2 linked regions of the Homo sapiens genome follow. The protein of the gene in region 1 interacts with the protein of each later gene in a pairwise test. Each region holds a gene or a part of one and is shown on either strand. Other genes may lie near its edges.

The links.
Region 2: the proteins of C2CD3 (region 1) and OFD1 interact in binary tests that used the Homo sapiens proteins (3 or more experiments, as listed by UniProt).

What each region holds. Positions count from the first base shown.
Region 1 is NC_000011.10:74,011,094-74,022,983, reverse strand, and holds the end of C2CD3 (C2 domain-containing protein 3), read left to right. Parts: intron 1-9,458; coding exon 9,459-9,599; 3' UTR 9,600-10,266; downstream 10,267-11,890. UniProt on the Homo sapiens protein: Component of the centrioles that acts as a positive regulator of centriole elongation.
Region 2 is NC_000023.11:13,751,217-13,759,828, reverse strand, and holds part of OFD1 (centriole and centriolar satellite protein OFD1), read right to left. Parts: intron 8,581-8,612; coding exon 8,461-8,580; intron 7,126-8,460; exon of another isoform or gene 7,112-7,125; coding exon of another isoform or gene 6,999-7,111; intron 6,462-6,998; coding exon 6,388-6,461; intron 4,679-6,387; coding exon 4,587-4,678; intron 3,252-4,586; coding exon 3,062-3,251; intron 2,170-3,061; coding exon 2,039-2,169; intron 1,493-2,038; coding exon 1,381-1,492; intron 1-1,380. UniProt on the Homo sapiens protein: Component of the centrioles controlling mother and daughter centrioles length. Recruits to the centriole IFT88 and centriole distal appendage-specific proteins including CEP164. Involved in the biogenesis of the cilium, a centriole-associated function.

The sequences.
Region 1 (11,890 bases):
CACAGGGTGGTTGTACTGTAGAATAACGAGTGCCACACAGGTAGAGTATAGGGGCCAGCCCATAATTCCCACCCCATGCTACTTCAACTTCTGGCTGTCGCCTCTGCAAAAAGAAAAGGGGTGAGAACGATGGCTGGTTTAGCAGGACTGCAGCACAGCGATCCATTTGCAGTTCCAAATTCATTATAAATCAATCAAGTTCCGCTGCCCCTGCTTTCTCTTCCCTCTTGTGATGAAGTAACTCTTTACTGGGACAGCTTCCTGATTTTGTTAAAAGTTTTTTGTGATTCTGCTTGCTCAGCTGCTGATGGACAAACTAGTTTTATCAACTTCCATACAGGGGAGGAGAGAGGTTGACGATGAGAACGGCAGTAATTTGCTTTACATGTTGTCTTCCTCAGACTGTGTCTTCTGCTCTGTAGATTTTCACTCTTGGGAATATCTCAATCACTCTGATGACTTCAAATATGACTTTGAATGACTCTCAAATCCTTATCTTCAGTCTAGTCTTCTCTCTCATGCCGCAGACACGTACGGACCCACCTGCATCCTAGACGTCTTGTCCGATGTGTCACAAACAATTCACTCTGTCCAAAACTTGAGCTTGTCATCTTCCTTTGCATACTTCCTCTGCCACCTGCATCCATATCTCAGGAAATTCAGCCACCATCCATGTAGTTACTCCTGCCAGAAGCACAAGTATCTCTCACCCCTGCTCCTTTATCCCCCATGACCCACAGCCAAGATCCACATCACCAAGGCCTGTTAATTCTGCCACCTAAGCATCTTTTGAATCACTTACTTCTCACCCTGCCCTGTCTAGCCCAATCATCTCCCCACTATTTCTTTTTTTTTTCCCCGAGACGGAATCTCACTCTTGCCCAGGTCGGAGTGTGGTGGTGCGATCTCAGCTCACTGCAACCTCTGCCTCCCGAGTGCAAGCAATTCTCCTGCCTCAGCCTCCCCAGTAGCTGGGATTATAGGCGCGTGCCATCACGCCCAGCTAATTTTTGTATTTTTAGTAGAGATGGGGTTTCACCATGTTGGCCAGGCTGGTCTCGAACTCCTGACCTCAAGTGATCTGCCCGCCTCAGCTTCCCAAAATGCTGTGATTACAAGCGTAAGCCACTGCGCCCAGCCCCCCCGACTATTTCTAACCAGTCTCACTTATACTTGCACTTTTCCACCACCATTTATTCTCCACACTGTAGCCAGTGTAATATCACACTCTAATCAGATCTTACCTCACTTTACCACTGGCAGGGGGAACACTCTTTAAGCCTGTCAAAACCCCAAAAAACTTCCATATTCCTAAGTCAATTATCAAATCTCAGTGCCTGATTGCATGTGACACAGTTGATCTCTCTCCTTTGAACACTTTCTTCACTTATTTCTAAGGCATCACTTCTTCTTGGTTCTCCTCCCTCACTGGCTGCTCCCGCTCTGCCTTGTTTGCTGGGTCTCCCTCATTTCCCCTACTTCTTCTTCTATATGCTGAAGACTCCCGATGGTTAACTTGGCCCAGACCTAACTCTACAACTGTAACTCTACAACTGCCTACCCAGCATCTTCACTTGAATATCTAATAGATGTCTCAAATTTAACATGTCCAAAATTGAGCTCCAGATTTTATTCCCAAATCCATTTCCCCTTCAGTCTTCTCAATTTCGATTAAAGGGTACAGCTGAACTCTGGAGGGGGGTGGTGTTTTTTGTTTGTTTGTTTGTTTGTTTGTTTTTTGAGACAGGGTCTCCCTCTGTTGCCCAGACTGGAGTGCAGTGGCATGATCTCGGCTCACTGCAAACTCCTGGGCTCAAGTGATCTCCTGCCTCAGCCTCCTGAGTAGCTGGGACTCTAGTTGAGTTGTTCAGACCAAAACTCTTGGAATCCTCCCTGATGCCAGTTTTCAATTAAACAGGAAATTCTGGCAGCTCTATCTTTAAAATATACAGAAATGTGCTTCTCACCACCCTGGTCTCAACCATCATTATTTCTGGCCTAGATTATTGCAGTAACCTCCTAACTTGCCTTTCTGCTGCTTCCCTTGCTCCTCACAACCCATTCCCCATACAGCATCCTGTTAACTTTTTAAGACGTTAAATCAGTCATCAACTCAATCATGTGACTTCTCTGCTCAGAACCTTCCAATAACTTCCCGTCATTGAATAGGAGAACTAGAGCTGGGCCTGAGGATAGGCAGGCCAGAAAGTAGGAAGATAGTTTTGACCTCAGACTTGAAATTTGCATCTTTTAACAAATGTGCAAAGCCACAGTCCTGAGCTAGGTGCAGAAGACAGGAGCTTCCCTCGGGGAACTCACAGTTCCCTGGGGAGCCAGCCTTATATCTAAGTTCCTCCAACTCCTGCCAACTGCCTGTCATGCTGAAAGAGCTAGGACCCTCATGCTGTGGACCCTGCCTTTAGGGAGCTCGCAGTTCTTGGAAACGCACTGGACTCCAAACCACTCATTTCCTCAAATGACATTTGCCTATATTAGCACTGAAGTAAAGCAAAGGGAATGAGTATAGGAAAAGAAAGACAGAGCCATGTGGGGTGGCTTAAGTTGAATTCAACAAAGATAAAGGAAAGGCTTTTCATGCTGTGGATTTGAAAAGAAGAAACCTTAGAATCAACAGAAGTTGGACAGCAGAAGGTACAAGCACTGTGTGCTAGAGACATGGTCAGAAATGGGAAGAGATGGGCCTGGACTGAAACAAGATAGGAATTAGAAGCAAAGGACAAGAAGCAGCCTGTCTTCTGAGCCTTGGCCTCCCTGCCCTGTCCACATGGCACTTCTTTACCATGAGGTGAGCCTTGTCTTGCTCTGTGCCTTCCTGTGTTAAGCCCACGCTCTGCCCACATCATGAATGGGCCCCTGGATTAACCACAGGCATCGGGCCAGACACTGTTATTCATAAGGAGTGAGTGTAGGAGGCAGAAAGTATGAGACAAGGCCAGGCATGAGGGTACCCTTAAAACCTTGAGTTTTCCACCCACTCCCACCCGATGTTCTCACTTGTACTCAGCCAGACCACAGCACTTCAGACATCACTAAGGATCGAGGTGCCAGCAAGCCTGATTTTTTTGTCCTGTCTCTGCTTATGACTTTCTGAGGTCCTCAGCAACATGTCTAAACCAAGGGATAGAATTTTTCTATCCTGGCACCTCTAATCCCAGCTACTTGGGAGGCTGAGGCATGAGAATCACTTGAACCTGGGAGGCAGAGGTTGCAGTGAGTCAAGATGGTGCCACTGCACTTCAGCCTGGGCGACAGAGTGAAACTGTGTCTGAAAAAAAAAAATCTATCCTTTGGTTTCCTTTCCACAAACCAGAAGCAGCTGAAAGATAAATAGTCCTGGTAGAGAATCCCAGCTCTCCACAAAGCCACCAGATCAGATCAGTAGGGGGCCTGAGGGAACTTACTGATCCTGGGTTTCTTCTCAGCCTGTGGTCCAGGCCTGACGGCTGAGCTGCCCCTCTTGGGGCAAGAGGTCCTGACCTATTGCCTCATTTCATTAAACCACCAAGTCCCTAGCTTTCTGCAGAGCCTAAGAGAGACCTAAAGGTCAAAGTATCTCTGATAAAGGCCATACAGAGCTTTTAGAAGATAAGCAACTTGGCCACGGGTGTATAGAGGTCAGGAGAAACAGCCAAAATTGGCTGGCGCCACCCTGGCCCAGACTGCAAGTTGGCAGACACTTTTTAGGAAGGGGCTCATAGGTCTGCTGGGCAGGTGCTAGTCTCAGGTTGCCTGAGCCACTCTGAGGCCAGAGTCCAGGAGGAGCCAGGAGCTCTTCTTGTAAGAGTATAACTTTTAACCCTTCCCTCTCAAAACCTGGACTTTGGAGCCCTCTCTCTGGCAGAGCTTGGGTTCAGAAGATTGAGGATCATCTTTTGAACCAGGCCCTGTTTAAAAAAACAAACAAAAAAAAGGGTTGAGGAGTCTTGCCCTAGTCAGGCCCCTTCGTAGCATAGACTAAGGCCCAGGGTGAGGGAGTGACGTAGGCCCTGTAGAATGGGCCTGTCCGGGAAGGCTTCTTGGAGTAAGGAGAGGGTGGCATCAGGTGGGGTGTGGCACGGAGGGAGCATATCGGTAATAAGAACCACATGACCAGACCTCTAATTTAGGCATGGAGGGTGAGCTCAGAGCATGAGACCAGAGCCATGCGGCAGCCGGGCTGAGCAGGTCAGATTTGGGATTTGCCTCTCAGGGCTGGGCCTCTAGTCTAAGTGCCTTGTCCTCACTTCCCCTCTGCTCCTACTTGTGGCTGCTGAGTTTGCTGCTCTCTGTAGTATCAAGGAAGTTCTAGTCCAGGCCAGACTCTGAGAGCCACCCCAGGGAAAGGCAGCCAGCCAAAGGGGTGAAAGTTGAGCAAGGCAGGCAGCTATATTGAGCCCTCACTCGGCCTCTGATGCAGCAATCCATTGGCAGGTCCACCTAGCCAGCCAGACCCAGGCGGCTGTTTACTTTCAGTTTTCAGCTCCTGAGTCAATGTTTATGTCACTTAAAGGGGCTACTGTGGAAAAGAACAGAACTTTAGCCCTCATCCCAGACCAGAGGCTCACTGTTACCAAAGAAGGGGGGAAGACAGTGGGGCGGGGAGAACTTGCCTGGTCTAGCACTGCTTACCTCAGTACAGGAGATCCTGTACCCCAGCTCTACTCAGGACTTTTGGGGCCTGACCCTTTGCCAGGGATGGGGTCTGAGAACAGCAAGGCTTCATTTTGCTCTTGGGTCTGCAGCTGGTATTGGCTCTAGCTCCATCTTAGCCTCTGTGTTTTGTAAGATATTATACCTGGTCAGAACCTCGGCCATATCTGAATTTTATTTGAACCCAGCATAGACCTGGATAAGAAGACCAAACAGAAGTTCTTAGATCCACTTGACAGTGAAGCTAAGACCCAGAGAGACCCAGAGTGAGAAAGCATCTTGGTCTTGAGTGAGTGAGACAGTTAGGTTGGGCCACAGACCAGTGTCCCTTCCACTGCACTCCATTGCCTGTCCTCTGAGAAAGTCCCTCAGATACTTGGAAGCAGGGGTAAGTGGGGGCACCTGTACCCACCAACCCCTGGGAGCATGTGGCCTGTTCGAGGAATCCATCTGGGGGCTGGAGTGAAGAGAACCTAGAACACAGTGGCTGGGATCAGATCATGTTCCAGGCCAAAGAAGAGGGCCAGGCCCTCCTGAGAGAGCTTTTGGAGAAGAGTCTGCATCACAGGGAGCAGACCAGAGAAGGAGCCAAGGGCCGGGATAAGCCCGTGGTTTATAGAGTGCCTCCTCTTGCATTATCTGCTCATCCTGATCCCATTCAGATGCACAAACCAAGGCCCAAAGAGAAGGTGGGTTGCCCAACACCGCTTGGCTAAGAAGTGGTAGAGCCAGGACTAGAACCAGCTCCTTATGCAGGGTTAGCCACTCAATTTGAAGAGCCTCAGGAAGCCCCACATTTTCTTTCCAAACCACTCCTTACACCTTCCACGTGCTCCATTTTCTCCCCAGCAAAGTCTGATCTTTAGCATTGAAGGCTCTTTTAAGACACATCTATTATCAGAGAGGCCTATCATGTTCATGACCTGGGTGTCCAGGTACTCAGAAAGGAACAGGTCCCATGTATGGATGAGGTAGGATTTAATGGGGCAGCCTGAAAGCCCCTGGCCTACTGCCGTGCTTGACACCCGGTCCACAGGAAAGCCAGTTCTGTCCTTCAGCCTAGTACAGTCGTCAAATACCCCATCCCTGTTCCCTGGGAAGGCCCTTACAGATCAGCTCGCTGAAGTCCAAGAAGAATAAGATCAAATTCCCCCCAGACATTCTGGAACTTCCTCAACCAGCATCAACCCCTCTTCTAGTAATAGGTTTGTCTTGGCTGTTCTCCATACCTGCAGCTCAGCCTATCCACCCCCACCACTTTCCTAGCAAAGAAAATTCCTTCCTCACAAAACCTGCACCTCCACGTGGCATACCCTCTCTCTTCATTGTCTGTTCACATTCCACCTTCATGTTTAAGTTCCCGCTCCAGGGACTTCACCCCATGGATGACACCCGCTGTCTAGACTCCAAGGCACCTGCAGCCCCTCCAGCTACGACGATCCTGCTTCCATGTGTGTTCCTCCTGCCTCCCCAGGAAGGTTGATGCCTCCCACAAAGCCCATGTTCTGCTGACAACTTTCTTGTGCCCTCAGGTCTACAGCCAGAAGTGTAGGAGTATTTCAGAGGAATGGATGATACATTTGAGGGTATCCCTGCTCTGGCCAATTTCGCCTCTGGCCAACCCCACCAGGGTTGTGTGTTAGGGTAGCAGTCCTGATGAAGGAAGAATCTTCACTACTAGTCAAGATGGTTTCTAAACCCTATTGAGGTCAACAAAAGCAAAATGCTGCTGAGTGTGAGTTCTCTGTCCTTCCACACCCCGCCCCTGCCCTGTACACAGAGCCAAGCCCTGTCCTTGTCCTTGTTCTGATTCCTGGGCCTGGGCCTTGCAGATAAGGCCCCCTAGGTCATTGGGTTAGGGTATCAGTGCTGGAAGGTTGGTGCCACACACGATTCAGCTCCAGGGCAGATATGGCCCAGCCAGTAGGTGTAGGTCTGTGCTCATGCTGTTCCCTCTAATGAAAGACCTCACCTGACAGCCAGCTTCTGTTGAGACCTTGCCCATCTTGGAGCCCACCTCCTGTGAAGCCGCCCCAGACTTTCTCAGCTGTTACTAATTGCTATTTTCTCAGTGCTCACAAGCTCTAAGCTTCATCTCTGTGATTGTTGGGTAGCTCATTGTCTGTCTTCTCTCTAGCTGAGCAGCCCTATGACAACAGGAACCACGTCTGCCTGTTGTCCATAAGAGTTGATCAAGTTGATTAGATCTTAGGCTCCTGAAAAGTTTGATGAGTCACCAACAGAGGTGTTTTGTTTTGAGACAGGGTCTTCCTCTGTCACCCAGGTTGGAGTGCAGTAGCATGATCATGGCTTACTGCAGCCTTGAATTCTTGGGCTCAAGCGATCCTCCCACCACAGCCTCCTGAGTAGCTGGGACCACAGGTGTGCACCACTACACCCTGCTAATTTTTTTTTTCCTTTTTTTTTTTTTTTGAGACAGGGTTTCCCTATGTTGACCAAGCTGGTCACAAACTCCTAGACTCATGCGATCCCCCTGCCTTGGCCTCCCAAAGTGCTGGGGTTACAGACGTGAGCTACCCAGCCCAACAGAGGTCTTTTTATGGTCATTTCATGAACTGAGGTAGTTGGCCCTTCCAGCCATGGAGAACAAGACTCATCTAAGTCTCTCTAAAACAGAGAAGACATCTCTTCTAGAAAATGGGGAAACAAATGCCTGGTTTTAGGATTTGAGATAGAATACTATGCTCTAAGGCCTGTTTTCCCATCTGGCTCATAAAACAAACATCTCCCTACTTCCCCTTCAGAGTAGCAGAGAAAGAAATGGAAGGTAAGATACAACTGATGACCCAGAAAATCTACCTGCAGTACAGCTGGGGGTCAGGAATGGGACTTGTGTCATCCTAAATCCCAAATAGCTCAGGAAACAGCCATCTTGGATCTTGGGAGTAGAGAAAGATATACACAAGCTTAAAGTGCTACATAGAGCCTGAGAGAGTTTAACTTAACTAAAGACCTGGCATATGGTAGGACAACAACCACTGGTTCTAGAATGAATGAATGAGAAGCTTACTACAAAGAGTCTCCTCCCCACCCAATTTAAACCTGTGGTTACCCTGGCCTGGTCCCACCCACACTGGTCTAGCAGCTCCCAGGCTCCTGTCTTGGAACTGGCCTCGCTGGGATCCCAAGCCTCAGACCCAGGCCGTGCCCTGCAGGAGCACCCAGTGTGGAAGTGGGAGAGCAACAGGCAGAGGCTGGCCACTGGCCTCCCCTGGTCTGAGGCATCATGCAGTGCAGGTGCTTCCTGTATTTTGGAAGGAAGAACTGCAAACACCAGCAAAAAGTGGGTTTCCTTCTTCCCTTCTAGCCTAGACCTGCCTAGAAGGCAGGGAGATAGATCTTCTAGTCTCTGCTGTGCAGCCCAGCCCTAGTATCACTTTGCTCTTGGTTATAAGGAAAGGCTGCCTGTGGGCTCATAGCACTGAGAGCTTCCCAGATTGTAGACATTCCCTTGGCACTTAGAATTCTAGACTGGCAGGGACCCTCAAGGTTTCCCATCCACACTTCTATTTCATGGGTGGGAAACTGACATCCAGGCAGTAGATCAGGGATGCCTGACTCCACTCCCCTTATCTCATTCTGGCAATTCTAATTCTTTAGGCAGATCTCTCTGCCTCCAGGGCTTAACTCTGAGCTGAGAAAGCCTAAAACGGAGTTCTGTTTATTTCTGCGCCCCTCTCAAGTAGGTATTAAAAAAGATTGAAGACATGAAAGAAAGAATAACTGAATGTTACTGATGCCAGAAGCAACTCTCGCTGGGCGCAACTCTCGCTGGGCGCAACTCTCGCTGGGCCTCAGTTTCTCATGAGCAGAACTGCAGGGGGTAGGTGGTCCCAGTCTCTAGGGTCTCCACCAAGCTTCTTCTCAGTGCCCAGGAAGTGGTACAGTGTGCTCTCAATAGTCCTTCAGCTTATGACAGCCTCAGCTCATGGGACTTGATGACAGGGAAGAGCAAGCTGCATGCCATGAAGTCAGCCAGGTTTGCCTGTGGAGGCTGCTCCCATCTCCTTTCAGAACTGCCCCCTCCCCTATCAGGCCCCCACTTCTTCCCCAGGGCCTTGCTCTCAGCCAGCTGTCTGGGATGGCTTTCCTGTATAGCTTTGAGCTCCTTCAGCACAGGAGCCTGACATGGAGTAAGAAAAAAGAAAGAAAAATGAGTTAGAGGAGTCCAGAGGACCATGATACCATAGCCCACAGGTTTAAGTACCTTAAAGGCGGAATTAGTGATGCCCTGTCAGCCAGAGTCAGAGAGATCAAAGTTTGGTAGCCAAGCAGTAGGTAGGTGCTTTATGTCACCTGGCAACTCCAGGAGCTCCAAAGGGCCAAACAGAGAGTGTATTATTCACCGCCATCTCCCTGAGAGTTGGATATGTTCCCAGCATCACACATGGGACTAAACCCAGAGGACAAATGACTTGTCTAAAGCCATGCAACAGGAGAAGGGATGAGGATTCAAACCTATCCTGGAGGTGACGCTGCCTCCTTCTCCAGAGGCACAGAAAGAGTCAGGGCTGGGGTTCACGTCCCAGCTCTGCTACTCAGAGCTGTGGGACCTTGAGTTTATTCCACCTGAATGTAGTTTCCTTATCCACGACATGGGGAGAATGATATACCCCCCATATGGGGTTGAGGTAAGGGTCAAGCAAGATAAGGTACGTAAAGCGCTTTGTAAACCAGGCAGCTCTACATAAATATTAACCAAAGGACCAAAAGATGAGAGAAACCAGCGTCATCCATTGGTGGTGCCATATCCTCAGTGGTAACCTAGCTGACTTCTTCCTCTCCAGGACAAGAGCGAAGCCACCAGGGGAGCTCTCTCCCAAAGGCCTTGTCGCCCCAGACCTAACTCGCTCCCCCTCAACCTGCCTGAGGAAGAAACTCTCAGGATTGCACGGATATTTTCTTCTCAGTACTCCCAGAAAGACTGACGCAGCCTGAGGGGCTGGGGGGAAGGAGACACCTGCCCACCCTCCGTCAGCTTTGTCCAGCTTGCAGGAGGCACCAGGTCTGGCTCCTTCAGGGCTGTCACAGTCCTGAAACCACCACTTGCCTAGGCCACGGATGCCTCAAGAGACCCGGTCAGCCCAGACTGGAGGAGTGCCCCAAACCAGTCCAGTGTCCACTTGCCAGAATTTCAGCTCCTTTTTTCTGTGGTGAGGCAAAGGCTAGAAATAAAATGGAATCCGCGCCCAAGTGGGACCCAAGCAGGCATCTTTCGGTGGAGAAACGCCCCCCAGTGTCCTTGACACAGCTGACTGCTGGCATGAGCCCACCCTCTGCCTGAAGATGCAGGACCATTTTTGCCTTAAAAGTTGGGGAGGAGGGACATGTAGATTGTGTGCATTGTGCATAGTCAAGGAAATCCTAGGGCCACCTCCAGTTCATTTGTGTGGGAACAAGGATATTTTATAGATACAAATTATTTTTATGCTGTGTTGAATTAATCAATTAGGAGAGGAAGGGGAAATCACTTCCTTCAAACTTTTTATCTGATTGTCTAAAATTCTAACCATGCTTTTAACTTATTATTTTTACCCAGCTCTGAAGGTCATTGTTCTTGCCTGTGTTTGAATAAAATCATATTGGTGTTTGTAATCTGTGCACAAGTGTTTCGCTGGAGTGGGGATGCTAGGAATTCGTGTGTGCCCTAACTGCCAGAGAGAAAGATTAACAACCATACACCCCACGCAGACGAAGATCAATCACCATGAGACTTCTGGCTCCTCCAGAATCAGGTTGGTCCAGATGACAGTGACACCCAGTATTTCCTTTGCTGATGCTTGAAATCCATCAGACAAAGCCCCGTGGGGAGGACAAGAAAAGGGCCATGGATGGGTGCAGTGGCTCACACCTGTAATCCAAACACTTTGGGAAGCCGAGGCAGGCAGATCACCTGAGGTCAGGAGTTTGAGACTACCCTGGCCAACCTGGCAAAACCCCGTCTCTACTAAAAAAAAAAAAAATACAAAAATTAGCTGGGCGTGGTGCACGCCTGTAGTCCTAGCTACTCAGGAGGCTGAGGCAGGAGAATCACTTGAACCCAAGAGGTGGAGGTTGCAGTGAACCGAGACCACGCCACTGCACTCCAGCCTGGACAACAGAGCAAGACTCCGTATCACAAAAAAAAAAAAAAAAAATGGGGTCGCGGGAGCCAAATGTGCAGAGTGAGCAGTGTGGCTGGGCAACAGGCTTTCACCCCCAAGTACATGTCACTTCACTCAGTCCTCAAAACAGCTCTCTAACTCTAGATATTATGATATCTAGAGTTTCTGTAAGTTCAGTGTTTTGCCTCTGTTTGTGTAGTTAGGAAGTGATTAACCACACAAGAAATCCCAGAGGTATTGCAAGGCTACTGCTTTCAGTAATCAAAACAAGGTACAGCCAATAAGTGCTCTGAATTTAGGGACTTCATGGAGAAAGACCATGTGGGCTGGGGCAGTCAGGGAAGGCTTCCTAGAAGAGACAGGTCTTGGGGTGAGCACAGAGAATTGGCCCAGGCTGTGGACAGCTATAGAGAGAGAGCCAGGAAAGCCTGTGAGCAGTGTGCAGCTGGAGATAGAGACCAGTCTCACTGCGTCTGAGCCTCTGTGGCCTCGTCTGTAAAACAGAGATAATCACCCCAGCTTCATGGGGTTGTGAGGAAGATCAAATGAGATGACATTTGTGAAAGTGCTTCGCCTACTTTTGGCACATGGTGGAAGCTTAGGAAATGTCAGCCCCACCCACTCTCCTGACTTTCGGGAGCAAACCAGTAGAGAGGCAAGCATGCAGCCACTGGGGCAGGCAGAGCACTCCTGGGCCTCAGAGGGTGCAAAATGATGCGGGAACCTCAAGGAAGGAGTGGGTGCTGCCTTCTTGGTGACAAGCCCTCCCGCTTCTATTTATCTCTGCTCCGACGCCTGCCAGCCCACCCCTCCCCAGCACCACAGAGGCCAGCCTCCCTCTCAAGTCACCAGCACAGAGCATTCAAGGCCCAGGGCCCCACTTCCCTTGGGGCCCAGGGGACCTAAAGAGGGGCAGTCAGGGCCCAGGCCTGAGGGGGAAAGCCCCAGGTAAAGAATATTCCTCCAAATCCCACTCCAGCTCCCGCAGACAACCTGATCGGGGTCAGGAGGACACACTCCTACCCCAGGCTGAGAGCAGCCTCTGATAACACAAAAGGACCCTGAGGGTGGAGACCTCCCACCTCCACTTCAAAACAGTGTGTTATTTATCAATA
Region 2 (8,612 bases), on another chromosome or scaffold:
TGGTGGCAAAGCCCAACCAGACTTGAACTCATTTGGTTGAAAAGTTTGACCTGAACTGATGTAAACCCATTTATAATCTTTATTTATCCCAGCATGAATATTCATACAGTTGACTGCAAAATAATTAATGTGCTTTACTATAGGATGCTGTTCAGAACTCCCAGGGCTATTGCGAAATCCACAGCATATGGCCCGAGTTTCATATAAGGAAGTGAGGACCTGCATTCACAACAACACTGTGGTCAAGAAACTCTCACTGCTCCCATTTTACAGATGGGGGGACTAAAGCTTACTGAGGCTGGGTCACACGGTTAGCAAGTCTAAGAGCTACTGGGCTTTCCTAATGCAAAGCCAGTGCACCTGCCCCTCTCTCCTGCAATGCCTCCCCGTGATGCTACAAGAAAGAAGCTTGCCCTCGGCAACACATGCATGCGAAAGAGTTCTATCCTCATTCAACTATTTTTTATTGATAGGAGACTGCTATGATTTCAGCTGTGAGAAGTTTCACAAACAGAACTGAAAGAAAATGAGGAACAGAAAAAAGCAGAAACGAGTAGAGATAAAAATAAAACAAGTGCTGGTAGAAGAGAGCAAGGAGCTGATGAGGAAACAATGCAGGTGGGAACAAGGAAGGCTCAGACCCAGTTGAACTGGTAACACATACGTACTTTCTTTGAACTTGAAAGCAACTGAAGAATAAAGTATCTGAACTTTAATATCCTTCTTACGAAGTAGGAAGGGGCAGAGATGCATCCACAGTGAAGACACAATAATAAAATGATACCAATAACCATTTCCTGAGTGTCTTTTATGTCCCAGGCACTGGACTGAAACCCATTTCATCTTTTTCATCATGGCTCAGTAGGTATTATTATCCCCATTACAAATGAGGAGACTGAGGCCCAAGGAAGTTAAAGTAACATGCCCAAGGTCAAACAACTTCAAAACGGGTCCAAAAGAAGAACAGTTCTGATTCTGAAGGCAATATTCTTTTTGCTAAACCACCCTGCTTGTCCTGTATATTTATATATCTATCAAGGAATCCGTAAAACTACTGAATTGGTGTTAACATTGGGGTAACAAATAAAAAAGGAAATCCTATAATGAATATGGGGACTTCTATGTTACCACCACGCCTTTCCTATTGGGGCATGAGACTCTCCCAAGCCATGAGGCACCTATGAAGCAAAATACTTTTGCTGATGATCCAGATGGTATTACCAAAATGGATAGGGAGTTTTACTTCTAAGATGACACATATTTCTATGGCTTTTCCCCTAAAACAATAATTAATATTCAATAAATTATGATCATTACATTTTCACAGACACCAGAAGCTTTATACATACAAAAATATTTATGGGTTAAAACGTCTCTAACCTGTCTGAGTTTGCTTCAGTTGCAATTTTAAATCGGCAACCTGAGTAGTTAAACTCTTTACAGAAGCTTTGTAACCTAGAATCTGGGCCTTCAGCTGTGCAGAATGCTCAATCTGAAAAGATTCAGAATAGGAAAAGAAATCAATGTAAAACAAATCACAGCTTGCTTCAAAAGGAAAAGTTCTCTTATCATGTTTGTACTCTTTTTGTTCTGCCAATTCCAAGAAGCTTTATGACAGTAAACAACAGGGTCCCTATTAAAAAAAAACACAAGCAGAACACACAAACAAGTTCTTCACCATCTTTTTCAGTCATATCAAAGAACTCTAGGGCATGCAGGCAGAAATCAGAAGACAGTGAATGTTTGTAATACTTATCAGGGTGAGAATCGAGAGATAACAGTGGGCACCATCAGGCACTCAGAAAATTTTATGTTTAGGTGAGTTTGCTTTCTTCTCCATTTTATTACTATTACGAATATAAAGTCACGTTATCACTGCAGAATTTTCTCAGATGAGAAAGGATACCTTTAGCATATTTGGGGGAGTAATGTTTGATGTTAAAATAAATCTGATTTACACTAGTGTGACTTGTGCCAAGTTTACGTAACTATGAAGTGTACTGGTATCACACTAGAACTGAAGAAGAGCAATACTCACTTCGTCTTGCAGTTGTTTGTGCAGAGCTTGCCTGCAGCTTTCGAACTCCTCATGCTCAACCACTATAGCCTTTTCGGCTTTCCGTAGTTCTTTCTGAAAGACTGCAAGTTCAGGAGCCGGCTGAGCTAGGCCTAAGAAGGTAAAAAAAAAAAAAAAATCCTAGTCATTACCAACCTTAAGTTTTCTTATTTAACTTAACAAAAACAGTTAAAGGGGTTTTAAAGTGTTCTTTGCTTTGTACTGACTCAATAAATATGATAATAATTCTATTAAATGAGCTCAGAGCAATCCTGACTCTCAAATTTCACAACAAAAGAATTTAGTGCATGTTAATGCAAACTTTATTACCCTTGGAGTCCTACTCCAAGTAAAAGAACTCTTTCAAATTCTCAAATTAACCTGAAAGCCTGTTTCTCTCCTCTACTGTGCACAGAAGGAGCTCTCTATCTGGTCTACCTGTTGATGACAGCCCTGGGATCCAATATGATCTGGGCATCTGACAGCAGCAGTTGGGATCCAGGCAGAAGGCAGATGGCTCTCACGGTCAAGGTCATCTAAGAACCCTTTAATAAAGGTTGACTTATTCAGGGTATGCACAAAGGATGGTGGAGTTCCCTGGGTGGGCTAGTAACAGGGCCATACTGTTAGCGCTCCTTGGGCCTGGGGAATCAGAGGAGGGAGAAATTCTCAGCACTAGAGACAGGGTGGTGGTGCAGAGCACTTGGAAGAGGTAATCGCAGGCACTATGGCCTCACTTGGCCATGAGGCACAGTGGCCAGCCTAGGGCCACTGTATGTAGAGGCTGGTGTCCCCACTGGCCAAACCCAATCAGCAGTCAGAGGGCAAGGGAAGCTTTGATACCACCTATAGGCAGGTTTGCAGAGTTTAATCCAAGAATCTTAATTTTATAAATCTTCCCAATGTAAGCCCCCTACCTTATACAAGTACAAAGCATAGTTTTATAATACTGACCTAATGCGAATTACTAAAACACGCAAGTCAGAAGAAAAGAAAAATACATACGGTTTAGGAGACGCAGGTTTTCATTTCTACTCTCTTCCAGTTGTTGTTTAAGTAATTTATTTTGTGCCAGAAGCTCCAGTTTCTCTTCTTTTAGTAGTGAATAATCACTCATCTCTTTAACCTTTTCATTCAGCATATGGTTTTGTTTTGTTATTGCCAAAGACTGGGCTTTGACAGACTCTAATTCAAGCTAAAATTCAAAAAGGAAAATTTACATTTGAATAATGACTTTACAGTACTGCAAAAGTAAAAGCTGGCAGGCTCCTTTAAGCATGGTGTCACAATTTAATTAAGGTCACTAGACAGAAGTCTGATTCTCTACAATAAGACTCTAACTACAATAACGAAAATTATCTTCCGCCCTACAGTTGGGGCAGAACTTTTATAGGCCGCATCCCATGAAGCAAGTCCTTCTAAGATTATCATCCCATTTTCCAGAGGCAACCAAGAACCCAACAATAATCACACATCATAGCAATATATATTTTTTAAATATGAAAGGTAAGATAAAAATGGCTGAGCATGGTGGCTCACGCCCGTAATCGCAGCACTTTGGGAGGCTGAGGCAAGAGGATTGCTTGAGCTCAGGAGTTCGAGACCACCCTGGGCAACATGGTGAAACCCCATCTCTACTAAAAATACAACAATTAGCTGGGTGTGGTGGCACATGGCTGAAATCCCAGCTACTTGGGAGCTGAGACATGAGAATCACTTGAACCCGGGAGGTGGAGGTTGGTTGCAGTGAGCCAAGATCACACCACTGCACTCCAGCCTGGGCGAAAGAACAAGACTCTGTCTCAAAAAAAAAAAAAAAAAAAAAAGGGAAAGAAAGGAAAAAAGATTCTGTAAAATGTTGTGAAGTGCTTCCCTTTTCTTAGTATATCTCATATTTGAGTAAAAAGCCTACAAAGTTCTCACATAAGTCACAGTTGCTAAAATAAATTTCATATACAAAATATGTTGTAAGTACCTAAAGTTCCAGCTTCATCCTTCAGACAGCAAGCACACGAATGAACAGAAAAGTAAAGAAGCAATGATATGTGAAAAATGTACCTCATTTTGTTTTAATCTGTAAGATAACAATGTAATGACAGGAATTTTGTTTACCTGCTGCTGATGGAAGGAGATAACAGGCTGATGTAGAAACTAATAGTAATGGCCACCTGCTATGAACTAGGCACATAAGTTAGCTTACTGAATTCCCTCAACAACCCTATAATGTGGAAAACATCCTAGTTTACAGCTCAGGAACCTGCAGTCACAGAACTTACCTAGCGACACACAAGCAGTTAGAGACACAGACAGGATGTGGGCAGGACTCCAGGACCCAAAGCTCTATCTACACTTTCCTATGTGACACTGACTGAAATTAAGAACTATTGAATTAACTTCAGCTAACACCTTCTTAGCCATATAAATGGCAGTCCAAACATCTCAACAGGATGACTTAGGATAAATTATGTATGACTAAAATTTCATATATTGCTTAAAATCTATTTCAAAAACCAACATGCTTAACAATTACCTCAAGTTCTTTCACACGATTTACAGATTGATTGAGTTCCTCCTTTTTTGAATTAATAGCTATGAGCTCCTCTTGCAAATGAACAGCTTTTTCTGAAAAAAGAGCCCACCAATTAAACACCATAATGTTTTCCTAGTGAATACAAAAGCCATTTAATATTTATGGCCAGTATGTCAGACCTAATGACCACTATTTCACAATCCAAATAGCAGATGTAGCGGGCAAGTAAGAAATAAACCCTGTTACCCAACAGGTGATGTGAAGCTGTAACTGTCATATATGTGGTGAAATTCCACTTGCTATACATGCTAACCAGAGTTATACCATGTGCTCAAAGCACAGGGCCCTAATACCCACAGCTCTTAACTTCCTTGAAGACAAAGATCTGTCTGTTACTATATTGTAGTTACTATTTTGTAGTTTTCACTTCATCTAACACAAGTCTATGTAGATATATCATCAAACCATAATTTGTTACATACGTAATGGTATTAATGCATAAAAGAAGTATTAGTCTCCACAAGATAGTAAAAGGGGCTGGGCACAGTGGCTCACGCCTGTAATCCCAGCACTTTGGGAGGCCAAGTCAGGCGGACCACCTGAGGTCACGAGTTCGAGACCAGCCTGGCCAACATGGTGAAACTCTCTCTCTACAAAAATTAGCCAGGCATGGTGGCGCACACCTGTAGTCCCAGCTACTTGGGAGGCTGAGGCACAAGAATCACTTGAACCCAGGAGGCAGAGGTTGCAGTGAGCTGAGATTGTGCCACTGTACTCCAGCCTGGGCAACAGAGCAAGACTCCGTCTCTTAAAAAAAAAAAAAAAAAAAGACAGTAGCCACACATTGGGTATCTGGTCAACATCAACTATCTAACCCTGGTTTCCTCCCAGGAATCTACTTGAAATTTCCACCAAAACTTCAACTTCTTGTTACAGCAATTTCCTAGAAATACATTGAAATGGGTCGGGCGTGGTGGCTCACGCCTGTAATCCCAGCACTTTGGGAGGCCGAGGCGGGCGGATCACGAGGTCAGGAGATCGAGATCATCCTGGCTAACACGCTGAGACCCCGCCTCTACTAAAAATACAAAAAATTAGCCGGGCGTGTTGGTGGGTGCCTGTAGTCCCAGCTACTGGGGAGGCTGAGGTGGAAGAATGGCGTGAACCTGGGAGGTGGAGCTTGTAGTGAGCCGAGATCGCACCACTGCACTCCAGCCTAGGTGACAGAGCGAGACTCCGTCTCAAAAAAAAAAAAAAATACACTGAAATGTAAAACATCTGAAGATTGAAAAATTATTCAACTTCCATAGTCTCAGGCCAATGTACACAAGAGTTCAGAAGGTTATACATCAAGTAAAAATATTATAAAGCATAAAAATATATTAGAAGCAAAAGAAATAAGAAACTAGGTCACAGAGGACAGAGAAGTTAAAAGTTTTCCGTAAGTGAAAAATAAAGTCTCTCATGGTTAGGAGTAATACGTACTTGACAGCAATAAGTTGCTGCTACGTTCCTGACAATTGCAGATTTATCAAAATATATGAAATAAAGTTGGATAAAATATCCATGATAAATCACTGGCCTTTGTGAATATACAAACTATTAAACATGAAGGTTCCTCAAAAGGCAGTGAAGACCATGATTTTTAATTTATAAAATTAAAATTACAAAAAATGTGTAATTTTGTATGAACAATGAAGTGTAAGCTGTATTTTTTAGAATATAGAAAAGACCCAACTTGGGAAGCTAATAACCTACAGCAGAACTGAAAAATACAGCTTATTTTCCCCCCAAACATCACCTTTATTCTTCCTTTCATCTTCAATCAGTCGATTAGTTCTAATGATGTAGTCATCCTTCAGTTCAAGTTGATACCTGAGAATCAGAATGACTAAATATGAGCTCCTCAGGCATTTTTCTGGAAAGACTGTTATCAGTGCAGGAGCTTATCTATGGCACAGGAGCACCTGAGGGTGCTAAACATGACAACTTGTAAACTTCAAAGTCCTCAATACTAAAGCCAGGGATATAACCCCTGAACATAAAATGCCCAGTAAAACCCTTCCTTGATCCTATAAACTGGGTCCCAAAACTCAATCACACAAAATGAAGCGTCGTGTTATCATAAGGTTACTTACTGAAAGCAATCACTTTTCAGTTGGTCTCAACTGACACAAAGAGCAAAGGGGTAAATTAAATTTACACAGCACACAACAGACTCAATCCCAAATGATAATCAGACGGTCACTTCCAATCCACCTGTACCATCTGCCCACCCCCAACCAAGGTAAGAACTTTTGTGCTCAGGGACTAAGCACAGTCCTGAGAGCCAACTGCCAAGAGCATTATATCCGGATTAGCAATACCAAAAGGCACATTTTCACAGTTTCACTTCCCTTTCCCAGCTGTTACCAGCTGCCCTTTTGGTTCCAAAAGGAAATAGAAGCACTCCTGTGGCGAAGAGCCTCCAAACTCCAACACCTGCCAAAGTCATATGAGGATTCCCAAAGCCAGGCAGACACCATGCAGCCTGTGGAAGCTGTCACAATGACACCAAATAGTTCACTAGCTCCATAACTATGTAAAATTAACACACATACTTTAATTCATTTATTCCTAAAAATTCAGCAACTACAGACACTTCCATTTTAGCTATTTTAGTATAGAAACTGACATAGAAGATGTGGGTAAAATACATCATTTCAAAATCAATAGATAAAAAAGCTGCCATATTTTTTAAAAATAGGATTTGTTTAAAGGATTACCTCAAGAAACCTTTGCAATATTATGTAATGGAATATCGATGACAAATTATGAGAAAGGCAATAAAAGAGGCCAAATAAGAAATGCCCAGAGCACCTGAGTTGAATCATTTCCTCGTGACACATTTACAACAAATATTAACTGAGCACTTTTTATGTGCCAGATGCTTTCCCACACACTGAAGAGAAATGTTACCACATGGGCATAATGTCGTAGCACTGAGATATTATTCACTGATACACAAAACTCAGACTACAGAAAAGCCAAAGTTACCATAGTTGTCCATATTTTCCTTTCCCTATATCACTTTTTGCCTCACATAGTTAATTTTAGCTCTTTTGATTCTGGCTTTGCTGAATCTTGAAGGAATACAAGGCACATGTTCACTGACAAATACTATGACCACTAGTATAATTTATATATTGTCAGATAACCCCATCCTTCTGACTGTATGAGTGAGGTAGAGGAAAAGATAACTAAAAGTGGTTATAATTCCAATTTTACAGCTTATCAACTATGCAAGCTAAGCAAGTCACAAGGTGTCCTGAAAATTAAAGCAAATCACAGCCCACAATAAACGTTAGAGAAGCCATAAGAAGCGCAGAGGATGTGCTTCTCTGTATTTTTTTATTGTTGTTAATTTTTGAGATGGATTGTCACTGTCACGCAGGCTAGTAGAGTGCAGTAGCACAACTTCAGTTCACTGCAACGTCTGCCTCCCGGGTTCAAGTGATTCTCCTGCCTCAGCCTCCCCAGTAGCTGGGATTACAAGTGCCCACCACCACACCCAGCTAATTTTTGTATTTTTAGTAGAGATGGGGTTTCACCATGTTGGCTAGGCTGGTCTTGCACTCCTGACCTCAGGTGATCCGCCCACCTCAGCCTCCCAGAGTGCTGGGATTATAGGCATGAGCCACCACACCCGGCCCTTATCTTTTAAAAACTATCCTAACTCAAATGCAGGAAAGGATTGACTGTATCGATAAAACTATGTTTTTTTTTTTTCAAACACTAAAGTTTGCCTAAGTTACAGACTACTTTGTCAGTTTTTGTTATGTTTCTACCAATTTAATTTAAACATATTAGTTATTTAAAAATGCTAAACAATTACTTTAGAAGTTCATTCTTGAGCTTTCGGTCATAGGTCTCCTCAAAACTCTTTATATTCTGCTCCTGTCTCCTAAGTGCCTCAGTTATGCTTTTATGTTTTTCTTCCTGGAGCTTCTGGTTCCTGAAATTAACAAAAATATAAAAAGTAAATAA